3 linked regions of the Homo sapiens genome follow. The protein of the gene in region 2 purifies or fractionates together with the protein of the main gene of each other region. This does not show direct contact. Each region holds a gene or a part of one and is shown on either strand. Other genes may lie near its edges. The genes, in order: VRK3, DSG1 and ARMC9.

Region 1 (3,654 bases), on a different chromosome or scaffold from region 2:
CTGAGCCCAGGAGATGGAGACTGCAGTGAGCCATGATCATACCACTGCACTCCAACCTGCGTGACCCAGTGAGACCCTGTCTCAAAACTTAAAAAAAAAAAATTATTTTTTTAATGAACACCACAAACTGTAAACAGAAAAACAGGGAGCCGGGGAAGTGTATATAGGTCTTACATAGACAAAACCAACAGTTGTCCACTATCCATATGGTGGAATAAGATGCAGCCATTGAAAAGAAGACATGGACTGGGCACAGTGGCCAAGGCAGGAGGATCACTTGAACCCAGGGGTTCAAGACCAGCCTGGGCAACAGGGCAAAACCCCATCTTTACAAAAAATCGGCTGGGCATGGTGGTGCATGCCTGTAGTCCCAGCTACTCGGGAGGCTGAGGTGGGAGGATCACTGGAGCCTAGGAGGCTGCAGTGAGCCGTGATCGCGCCACTGCACTCCAGCCTGGGTGACAGAGTGAAACCCCATCTCAAAATAAATAAGTAGATATTTTTGAAAGAAGATTTGGTTAACTTTATGTATCAGGCAGAAAGCATTTAACTTTTGTTTTAAACTCAGTTAAGCCTTATAAGAACCCTTTGAGGTGGGGACTATTATTATCATCATTTTACAAATGGAGAAATCATAGCAGAGAGAACTGGTATAGCTTGCCCAAGGTTGTACCGCCACCAGCGGGCTGAGTTGGCATTTGAACCCAGGCCATCTGGCCCCAGAGTTAATGCCCAGAACCACTATTAAAGTGTAAAGTGCCGGTGCCCAACAGGAGGTCTGGTGTGAGGCCTCTGTGGAAAACAAGAGCCCCCTCCCCATCCACATATGTTTACCTGGTTATTTAAAAAAAAAAAAAAATTTTGGAATGATGCATACGAAACTGTTACTAGTGGTTATTTCTGGGCGATGGGTTTTAGGGGCTGGGAGGAAATATGGATGGCTGGTTTGGGTTCTTTTTACTTCACATCATTTTTACTATGAGCATGCCTTAGTTTTGTAAGTGAAAAATGCCATCTTTGGTAGAATGTTTGTTGTCACTTGCACCCACGATGGAAATCTCTGACTTCTACGCTCCTAACCTCCAATCTGTATGGCTTTTCCCTGTGTCCACAGGTGACTTTGGCAGGCTATGGCTTCGCCTTCCGCTATTGCCCAAGTGGCAAACACGTGGCCTACGTGGAAGGCAGCAGGAGCCCTCACGAGGGGGACCTTGAGTTCATTAGCATGGACCTGCACAAGGGATGCGGTACGAGGCCAGGGATGGGTTTGGGACCGCAGAGAGATGCTTCTTATACAAGGGCAGCTCTAGGAGTTCACAGCCAGAGACAGCAGGTGGCCAGACAGGAGAGGCACTAAGGGCGCCAGGACAGGGATTGGAACCACAGACAGCGTCCCGACCGCAAGGGAGGTGGGTGGGGTAGCGGTTCAGCACTAAGCATAGTGGGAGGCTGGGCACTGGGGAGCCTGAGTTCCAGAGGTTGGGGTTCAGGATCTGTTGTAGACTTGGAAGATGGGAGTTGCCTAGGAGTCATCCAGGAGGGGCTGTTGAGGAGGTGGTTGGCCACCACATCTGGAGTGTGGGAGGGAGATCTGGGCAGAGGCTCTGCAGTATCTCAGAAGTTATCAGCCGAAGCCCTGGGAGAGGATGGGATCATCCAGGGAAAGTGTACAGACTAGGAAGAGGGCCCAGGGCAGATTTCTTGAGCCCCTCTTTCTCACATCCCTTTATATCATGGCCGTCCACATGCCTGCCACATCCTCCCATCAGACTGAGCTCCCCCAGTACAGGGATGGCACCCCTGCCTCCAGCATCGGGTGGTGGAAGGCCAGCACGGACAAGTAGTGCTTGTCGAGTGCTTACACAAAGCGTTGTCTAAATTAAGCGTTGTCTTATGCTCAGGAAGCATAAGAAAAATAAACTGTCAGAGTCTCCCCCGCCCTCCCCCACTGAGGCTGGGTTTGGTACCCATCCTTCTGGGCTCCCGTGTGTTCTGTGTCCTTTGTCACTCAGGTAGTCGCACGCTATAGCTGTCTCCCCACTAGGCTGTCACGGGCTGGGACCCGACGAGATCCTGGTCTGGGTTTTCAGAAGTGAGCTGGGCCTGGCACACGGGTGCTGAGGCTTGATTGAATGAGTGCATGAATGAAAGAGGAGTGGATGAGGGTGACCTGGTAAAAGGGGCTGAGAGAATGGTTGAGTGAGAGAGAGAATGAGTCAGCTTCTGCCTACTCATGAAAGTGAATGAGCGGAGGAGACAGCCCATATGGCTGGAAGGCTGGGTGTATGAGTGTGTGGTTGAGTCAGTGAGAGAGAGGGGAAGGAAGGGGGGTGGACCCACCAGTGAGTGGAGCGTCCAGACTTGAGCTGCCACCTTTACTCCTCCTTCCCCAGGGCCCTCCCGCCGCAGCGACCTCCAGAGCCTGGGCTACTGCATGCTGAAGTGGCTCTACGGGTTTCTGCCATGGACAAATTGCCTTCCCAACACTGAGGACATCATGAAGCAAAAACAGAAGTGAGTCTAGGGGTCAGCAGAACCCCTGCAGGTGGTCAGCAGAACCCCTGCAGGTGGACAGAAGCCCAGAGCCCAACTGGGAGCAGGAGGGAAGGGGAGGTGGCATCCAGCAGAGCCCAAGTCCTCTGAGCCGCACAGGCATGTGCTGCAGTGTCCACACAGCAGGCGAGGCAGGTGTTCCGGAGCCACACTGCCTGGGCTCAGACTCTGGCACCACCACTGTGGGGTGTTAACGTCTGCGAGCCTCAGTGTCCTGCTCCATGAGATGGTCTCCTACTAGCTACTACCTTATGGGACTGCAAAGAGTTCAGGGAAGTCAGGTGCACACAGCACTTAGCACAGGGGCTGGCTCAGAGAAAATGCTCATTGTGGCCGGGCGCGGTGGCTCACGCCTGTAATCCCAGCACTTTGGGAGGCAGAGGCGGGCGGATCACGAGGTCAGGAGATCGAGACCATCCTGACTAACACAGTGAAACCCCGTCTCTACTAAAAATACAAAAAATTAGCCAGGCATGGTGGCGGGCGCCTGTAGTCCCAGCTACTTGGGAGGCTGAGGCAGGAGAATGGCGTGAACCTGGGAGTGGGAGCTTGCAGTGAGCCAAGATTGCACCACTGCACTCCAGCCTGGGCGACAGAGCGAGACTCCGTCTCAAAAAAAAAAAAAAAAAAAAGCTCATTGTGTGTGGGAAACTATGACTCATTCATCACAAACATGCAGGCAATCTGAGCAGGATAGGCCCAGGCCCTGCCTCAGCACTGGTAGCACCACCTATGCAGTGTCCACACTGCCAGATCAGTGCCTTCACCTCTGTGTAAACCACCAGGTCTTACCAGTGCTGGTTTAAACATTCAGCACCAAAGCCGGTGGACAGCGGAACATATGAGGAAGTTCTGGGGTGAGATTGAACACTAAGGGCATTGAGCAGCTGGACACAGAGGGAGCACTAGGGGTATGGGTTCAGCACTAGGGACAGCAGGCAGCTGGGCACAAAAGGGAGGCACTAAGGTGTGTGTTCAGCACCAAGAACAGCAGGCAGCGGGACACAAAAGGGAAGTGCTAGGGATGTGGGTTCAGCACCAGGGACAGCGGAGCACAAAAGGGAAGCGCTGTGGGTATGAGTTCAGCACCAAGGACAGTGG
Region 2 (3,741 bases):
CTGAAAGAGGTAAGATTTTGTGCAAGATGAAGTTGATAATAGTCTGGAAGTGGCATTGGAGAACAAAAGGAGATGCATCCCAGTAAAGATGAAAGGGTATGATTTAAAGGGCAAAAAAGAAGAAAAGTCATTTTAAAAGAAATAAAATGCTGGTGTAGGCAAAAATAAAAATGCAGAGTATGAAAGAAAGAAAGGTAAAAGTATAAAGATGCTACAAGTATTAAATAAGAACTAAAAATGCAGCTTTTTATCATCTGTTCATTTGTGGGGCTAACCACCTGGTCAAGGCTGGGCTCTAGCATCTATAATTAGTGGTCCAGAGAGTAGGTTCCTCAGTACACATTAAAAAAAGATAGCTAGGAAATGGAGAATGAAAACATATTTTAACATTGTGAAAATAAAAGAATTGTATCTCCTCCAATACAGGATGATAATAACTAGATTTGATAACTTTGGTTTTACAGTCTAAAACCTCCCCCTTGCTTACAATTCAGAAAAGATAAGGGAGGCATATTAATAATTTTATTGCTGTATGCATAACTCTTTGGAAATTACAAATCAACTTAAAAAAACGAACAGATAACCAAGCAAGAAACTAGCACCCAAATAATCCAAAAACTTTTATATTGAAACTTGAATAAGAGAACCTTGTGTTAAACACCACCAGAGATGAATATTAGAATTTTAAAATGCTTGTAAAACGACAGCAAAAGAAAAATAAGTTAGACTAGGTACAGTTTGACGATAAAGCATTTAGTAATTCAAATACAGCTAAACTGGGGAGAGAATGTAGACAAACAAGATTACACATTGTTTTAAAATTATCTGATGGAAAACAGGTTGATCTAGTCAAGATTTGTCCTAACATAAATTGAATAATCCGGAAGTGGAAGACAGATTTGATTTCAAGGAGAGTAGCACTCTACTGTGGACTGCTGTATCCTAGTGCAATGTGAAATGGGTCTTAAAAATCCAGAAATTGTAAAAAAAAAAGTTGGAATTTATGAAATAGGCATGGGAAAATGTGGCAAATACTTTTAAAAGTTTGCTTTGGGTCTTAAATGTCTTTCCAAAATAGTCATGGCCATTTATGCTAAAGATTATAATGCCTTTCAACTCCAGCAAAAGTTAAAGGGTGTCATATATTTTGTACCATGACAATCAAACATTGGTATAAATTCAGAAATAAATTGCCAGATAACTAAAAACATCTACTTACTAGAGTAAAAAATGTAATTTTTGAAGACATATAATTAAAATTTTGTCAGAACATTTTCTTGAATAAAAATTATGATGCTAAAAACTTTATACACAAATGTAGAACAGATGTCTAGATGAAGATATATAAATAACCCTAAATATGTACTTTTTCTTTTAATTTTTCAGTGCAAATGCAATTACATCAGACAACATGCTTAGAAGTAAATAATATGTAGCAGATATATCTGTAATTCAGTGTCAAAATTAGCTTGAGATGGTATTTTGGTTGATATTAAATGGTAAAGTATTTATAATACACTGATTTTTGCTCCTAAAGATTACCTCTTTAGACAGTCAGATAGATATTTTATAAACATTGTGGTTTGTTTTCAAACCATACATACATAGTATTAAATTACTATTTCTTTTTCCTTTTGTTAAGAGCAAGTTGATCTGAAACTCAGCTTGAATCCTAATTATAGTATTCACTTATAAAATAATTTCCATATCTCTTCTTGGTCTATGACATGATGTATATGATCTAGAGTAAACATCTAAGAAGAAGAATGAAGTTCTGCCCAAAACTTCTTCATTGAAAAATGACATGCCTTTAAATAACTACTAAAATCGTTGATGTCTTGAAAAGGGAATTTTAAAATTTAGGACTAAATGGAAAATCAGTGTGCAATCCTGGAAGAAAAAATTAGTTGGAAAGTATCTTCCCAGAAAGATAGGTGACTAATACTTCAGTTTTTCTTGTTTTTCCCATCAATTTGCAATCCTGGAAGAAAAGTTTGGTTAGAAAGTATCTTCCTAGAAAGATAGATGACTCAATGACTCAAATGGCCATGTTTTTTCTTGTTTTTCCCATCGTTTAACAGTGTTTAGGAGTTCAGATGTAACTAAATTGGGGGGATCTTAACAACCAATGGATTTTGACAGCAACAGTTATTAAAGACAGTGATTTTGTTGTTTGCAAGACAACCTAAAAAATATCTCTGGAAGATATCAGATGTCTTAAGAAAAGCTTGTGATGATATTTCATATCAAAACAGTAAGCAAGTTTCCTGTGGTCAGCTACCATTCCCTTTAATAAATTACTTAATTAATTCATTAATACTTATTTCTATTCCTTAAAACTCCTGGACCCAGGCATACTCAAGTATGTCTTAATAAATACCTTTTGACTTTATTCCTGGAAAGATTACCCATCCTTAATGTGGCCCCCTAAGTGTCAGAAAAAGAAAAGACTCCCTTTGAATGACTTTATTTATACTTCTGCATTTAGCATACTACAGACTATCAAAATTTTACATATTCTACAGAGTTAAAAGAAGATGTATACTGTGGCTTTTAAAATATTAGCCTTATCTGTTGTTACAGAGCAAAATAGCTCTAGGTTCAGTAATTCACTCCTATCCTCTTTTGACCAGTGGAGGAAGTTGAATATTCTTTGGCTTTGTAATTTCCTGGGAAATTTGAGTAATTGGGGTAAATTCTTTAAAAGTTGTATATAATTCACAACTCCAGGGCAAATTTTTTTCTAATTTTATTTTGTCATATAGAGTTTCATTTTAGTGAGCTTATAGTAACATTGTATTTAAGAAAGAAAAAATTTCTGTACCATGCAATAGTAAATTTACCTTTTTCTTAGAATGCTTTAATTCTTTTTAGAGATTTTTAATTGGGTAATACTACATAGCAAACACACAGAAATGATATATCATAAATAGGACATTACTAAATTTTGAAACTAGAAAAATATGTTATACTATATAATTTGGACACTACCTATAAATCAGCATATATAAGCCAAGATCTTATTGACAAATCAAATCAGGAATTTAAAATTTATGCTAGTGAGAAAAATTAGAGGGTGAGATAAACTAGCAGAATAGGTTTCTATTATTATTTCATGCTTATCAACACCATATTGTCAATTCTGCTAAAGGTTCCTGGTTGATTCCTGCAAAATGGCAGCAGAGGTTTGCTAAAGCAACCACTACTTTACTTACTAAAAGCGAATAATTAGCATGGTATTACTTTACAGAAGAATTCTTTTCCAACTTTCACCATTAAACATTTTACATGTTCTAAAAACATTTTTTTAGATCCCCTTAAAAAAAAATTCCCCAAAGCTTAAGCATACTACAAGCTGCTGCTTCTTTTTTTTTTGTCCACAGCTCGGCCTATGTAAATCATTTTAACTTCAGAGCTATGTAATAAAGAGCTGGATACGAATGAATATCACCTACTAAAAACAAAACCTGAAAACACAATTCAGTTCCCATCTGCTTACTTGGAAGGTCATTTGCCACTAGTGATGACAACCATGTCAGGCCTCACTTGCTTCAATTCGAGAAGTAAACTTAGTGAGTTTTGCTTTCTTAAGTCAAAACCACAGTGGTAAAGGGAAAGACGAGTGTGATATTCCTCAACCTCACCAGTAAGCAATATTCGTCAAGACTACATCTATCACTAAACACACACTAGAATCAGAAGAATCCTTGACTCCACAGGAGATTTAACTGAGGCCCCACA
Region 3 (3,654 bases), on a different chromosome or scaffold from region 2:
TGGCTTATTAGAATACAGTGAAGACTGCGCTCTCTTGGTAACTAGCTACCTTCTTCATTTATTGCAGAGACTCTGGAAAACTGCAAAAAGGTTAAGCACATTTACAGAACAAAAAAGCTTAAATTAACACTTAGAGGAAAAGATAAACAGGCAGTAAACATTTGCATTACCAGGAGGAAGTATTTTTTTCACCATATCTTGTATCTGTTACTTAACTATAGTTATTGAATTTCTAAAAACTTCCCCAAAGCGATCAACATGGAGCAAAGTTCTCTCTATAAACAAAAAGAAATGAAGTGTTTGTATGCTCTGAGGAAGTAATGACTCTGCAGCACTTACAGTTCTTTTCGATTCATATAGTTAGAACAAAGAATTTTCATTGGCAGGGAGCTGGCAAATGGTAGATACAAATACCTATCCCTTCCCCCACTAAAAACACACATGCTTAGACCATTTCACTTTGTAGGCTTCTGGTTATTTGTGAGTCAGTCAAATGTAAACCACATTTGATGGGAAGAAAGTGTGTTCAGAAGAGGACCGACAGAAAAAAGTTGAAGACTCCAGGGACTAGAGTTCTCAAGAAAGTCAAAGAGAACTTGAGGTGATCATGAGAGAATAAAAACTCTGAAAAAATTACCATATGTCCCAACAGTTCCTCTCCTAGATGCCGATCCACGAGAAAAAGAAACATATGTCCACACGAAGACTTGTGCTGAAGCATTCATGGCAGCATTATGCATATTGGCCAAAAATGCAAACAACTCAAATGCCAATCAACTGAAGGACAAACAAAATGTGGTGTAGGCCGGGCGCGGTGGCTCACACCTGTAATCCCAGCACTTTGGGAGGCCGAGGCGGGTGGATCACAAGGTTAGGAGTTCGAGACCAGACTCACCAGCATGGTGAAACCCCATCTCTACTAAAAATACAAAAATTAGCCGGGTGTGGTGGTGTGCGCCTGTAATCCCAGCTACCCAGGAGTTTGAGGCAGGAGAATTGGTTGAACCCGGGAGGCGGAGGTTGCAGTGAGCCAAGATTGCGCCACTGCACTCCAGTCTGGGTGACAGAGTGAGACTCCATCTCAAAAACAAACAAACAATATGATGTAGCCATAATGGAGTACATATTCAGCCACAAAAGGAATGAGGCCCTGACACATGCTGCTACATGGACAAACCTTGCAAACGCGATGCTAAGTGAGAGAAGCCAGTCACAAAAGAGTGCACACTACATGATTCCATTTATATGAAACGTCCAGTACAAGTCAATCGACAGAAAGCAGATTTGTGGCTACCGGGGACTGGGGGTAGGAATGAGGAGTGACTGTAAATGGGTATGAGGTTTCTTTTTGTGGTGATGGAAATGTGCTAAACCTGGATTGTGGTGATGACTGCACAACTCTGTAAATACACTAAAAATCCTTCAATTGTATGCTTAATATGGGGGAATATTATGGTGTGTAAATACATCTCAACAAAACTGTAAACTAAAAAGGAACCTACGGGGCCGGGTGCGGTGACTCACGCCTGTAATTCCAGCACTTTGGGGGGCTGAGGTGGGCGGATCACCTGAGGTCAGGAGTTCGAGACCAGACTGGCCAACATGGTAAAATCCTGTCTCTACTAGAAATACAGAAATTAGCCTGGCCCCATTGGTTCCAAGTCATGACGGTCTAGGCTGATCCCATGGGGTGGGCTGCTGGGATCATGGACAAGGTCAGGAGGCCCTAACCCTGACTTCCACAGAACTGCCCTTGACACTCTGCTGGGATGTGCATTCATGTGTGCAGCTCCCACAGGGGACTGGAAGTAACTTGAGGGCTGAGGCTCTATCAGGTCTGATTCATGTGTCTGTCTCTAAGCCCTGCACATGCCCTGAGACACAATCCTGCATGGCTGGCACTCGATAATGTCCATTAGGAAAATCCAATGATGCTTTGAAAATGTCTTCCTCCATCCCCAGCAGCCTTGCGCAGGATAGTTTAGTGGATTACAGATAAGCTTTCTAGCTCTGTCTTAGAAAGTCATCCAACCTCTCCAAAGTGTAGTGGAAAAATACCATCTGCCTCCTGGGTTGCCATGGGAATTTTAACTCAATCTGATCTCACAGGAGACACCGTGACCTATTGCACAGTCGTTACCTGAGACTGAACTTCTGCAGGGCCCCAAGAACATTCTCCCTGGTGATGATATCCTTGTCCTCCTCCTTCAGCCTTCCCTCCAGCATCTGCAGCACCTTTGTGTTCTGGGCAAGGTAGAGGCGACCTGATAATACACCAGAGATGAAACAGGTGAAAGACAGAAATAATTTATCTGGTATGCTACAAAACCACTTTCCACGAAAACTTACTTTGCATATAACACAGTAGAGTTTGGGTAATTTTATGTTCTAAAAAACTTACTGGGCAGGGCGCGGTGGCTCACGCCTGTAATCCTAGCAGTTTGGGAAGCCAAGGCAGGCAGATCACCTGAGGCCAGGAGTTTGAGACCAGCCTGGCCAACATGGTGAAACCCCGTCTCTATTAAAAATACAAAAATTAGCTGGGTGTGGTGGCAGATGCCTGTAATCCCAGCTACTCGGGAGGCTGAGGCAGGAGAATTGCTAGACCCCAGGAGGCAGGTTGCAGTGAGCCTGAGATCGTGCCACCACACTCTAGCCTGAATGACGGAGCGAGACTCCATCTCAAAACAAACAAACAAACAAACAAACAAACAAACACTTACTGGTTGTGCAAGGTGGCTCACGCCTGTAACCCTAGCACTTTGGGAGGCTGAGGCAGGTAGACTGTTTGAGCCGAGGCGTTGGAGACCAGCCTGGGCAACAGGGCGTAACCTCATCTCTATAAAAACTAAGGAACATTAGCCAGGTATGATGATGCACACCTGTTGATCCCGCTAATTGGGGGGCTGAGGCGCGAGGAGTATTCCTTGAGCCCAGGTGGTTGAGGCTACAGTGAGCCGAGATCATGCCACTGTACTCCAGTCTGGTTGACAAAGTGAGACTCTCTCAAAAAAAAAAAAAAAAAAAAAAACCAAACACACACACACACACAAAACCCCCACAAAACTTATTAAAACTTATTAAAAGATATTTCTTCTAAACGTTAAACGTTGGTTTTATTCAATGAAATATCTGGTGACTAGAAAAACCACTCTTCTTGTGAGCTAAACATAATTCATTGCTGTGTTCTTGTGGGGAGCATTGTCCTTTTTTTTCCATGAAATCCTGAACCCAACAGTCAGATCTACAAAGAGAAATGAGGGGTAATGTGTGTGTTATGAGCCCTTAAGTCTTCACAACAGAGGCAGCCAAGGAATGCTTCCATACACACTCTCTGTACAAGGCCTGGAGAAGAAGCAGGAAGCCACACCTGGGACCCTGTAATAAGCCCAGAATGGTCCCTAGCCTGTTGTGGACTTCTGAATGGATATGGAAGATGTTAATTTCAGACATAAGTTTCAACAGTATTATTATATGAATGGTCCTCAGTAACACATCCTGGCTTATCATAAATGTCTGCCAAATGGATGGAAGAACGAATGAACAAATGAACAAAGTTTTGGAGTATCATATATTCATAATTTGAAAACTCCCTTTATTCACATTATAAAGAGCTCAAATAAATAAGAACTTACGGAAGATAATGGCACTTTG

The links.
Region 1: the proteins of DSG1 (region 2) and VRK3 purify together in Homo sapiens (co-immunoprecipitation; one large-scale study listed by IntAct). This does not show direct contact.
Region 3: the proteins of DSG1 (region 2) and ARMC9 purify together in Homo sapiens (co-immunoprecipitation; one large-scale study listed by IntAct). This does not show direct contact.

Annotation. Positions count from the first base shown.
Region 1 is NC_000019.10:49,987,232-49,990,885, reverse strand, and holds part of VRK3 (serine/threonine-protein kinase VRK3), read left to right. Parts: intron 1-1,114; coding exon 1,115-1,247; intron 1,248-2,393; coding exon 2,394-2,514; intron 2,515-3,654. UniProt on the Homo sapiens protein: Plays a role in the regulation of the cell cycle by phosphorylating the nuclear envelope protein barrier-to-autointegration factor/BAF that is required for disassembly and reassembly, respectively, of the nuclear envelope during mitosis.
Region 2 is NC_000018.10:31,356,014-31,359,754, reverse strand, and holds the end of DSG1 (desmoglein-1 preproprotein), read right to left. Parts: 3' UTR 509-3,741; downstream 1-508. UniProt on the Homo sapiens protein: Component of intercellular desmosome junctions. Involved in the interaction of plaque proteins and intermediate filaments mediating cell-cell adhesion.
Region 3 is NC_000002.12:231,271,565-231,275,218, reverse strand, and holds part of ARMC9 (lisH domain-containing protein ARMC9), read right to left. Parts: intron 2,265-3,654; coding exon 2,141-2,264; intron 1-2,140. UniProt on the Homo sapiens protein: Involved in ciliogenesis. It is required for appropriate acetylation and polyglutamylation of ciliary microtubules, and regulation of cilium length. Acts as a positive regulator of hedgehog (Hh)signaling.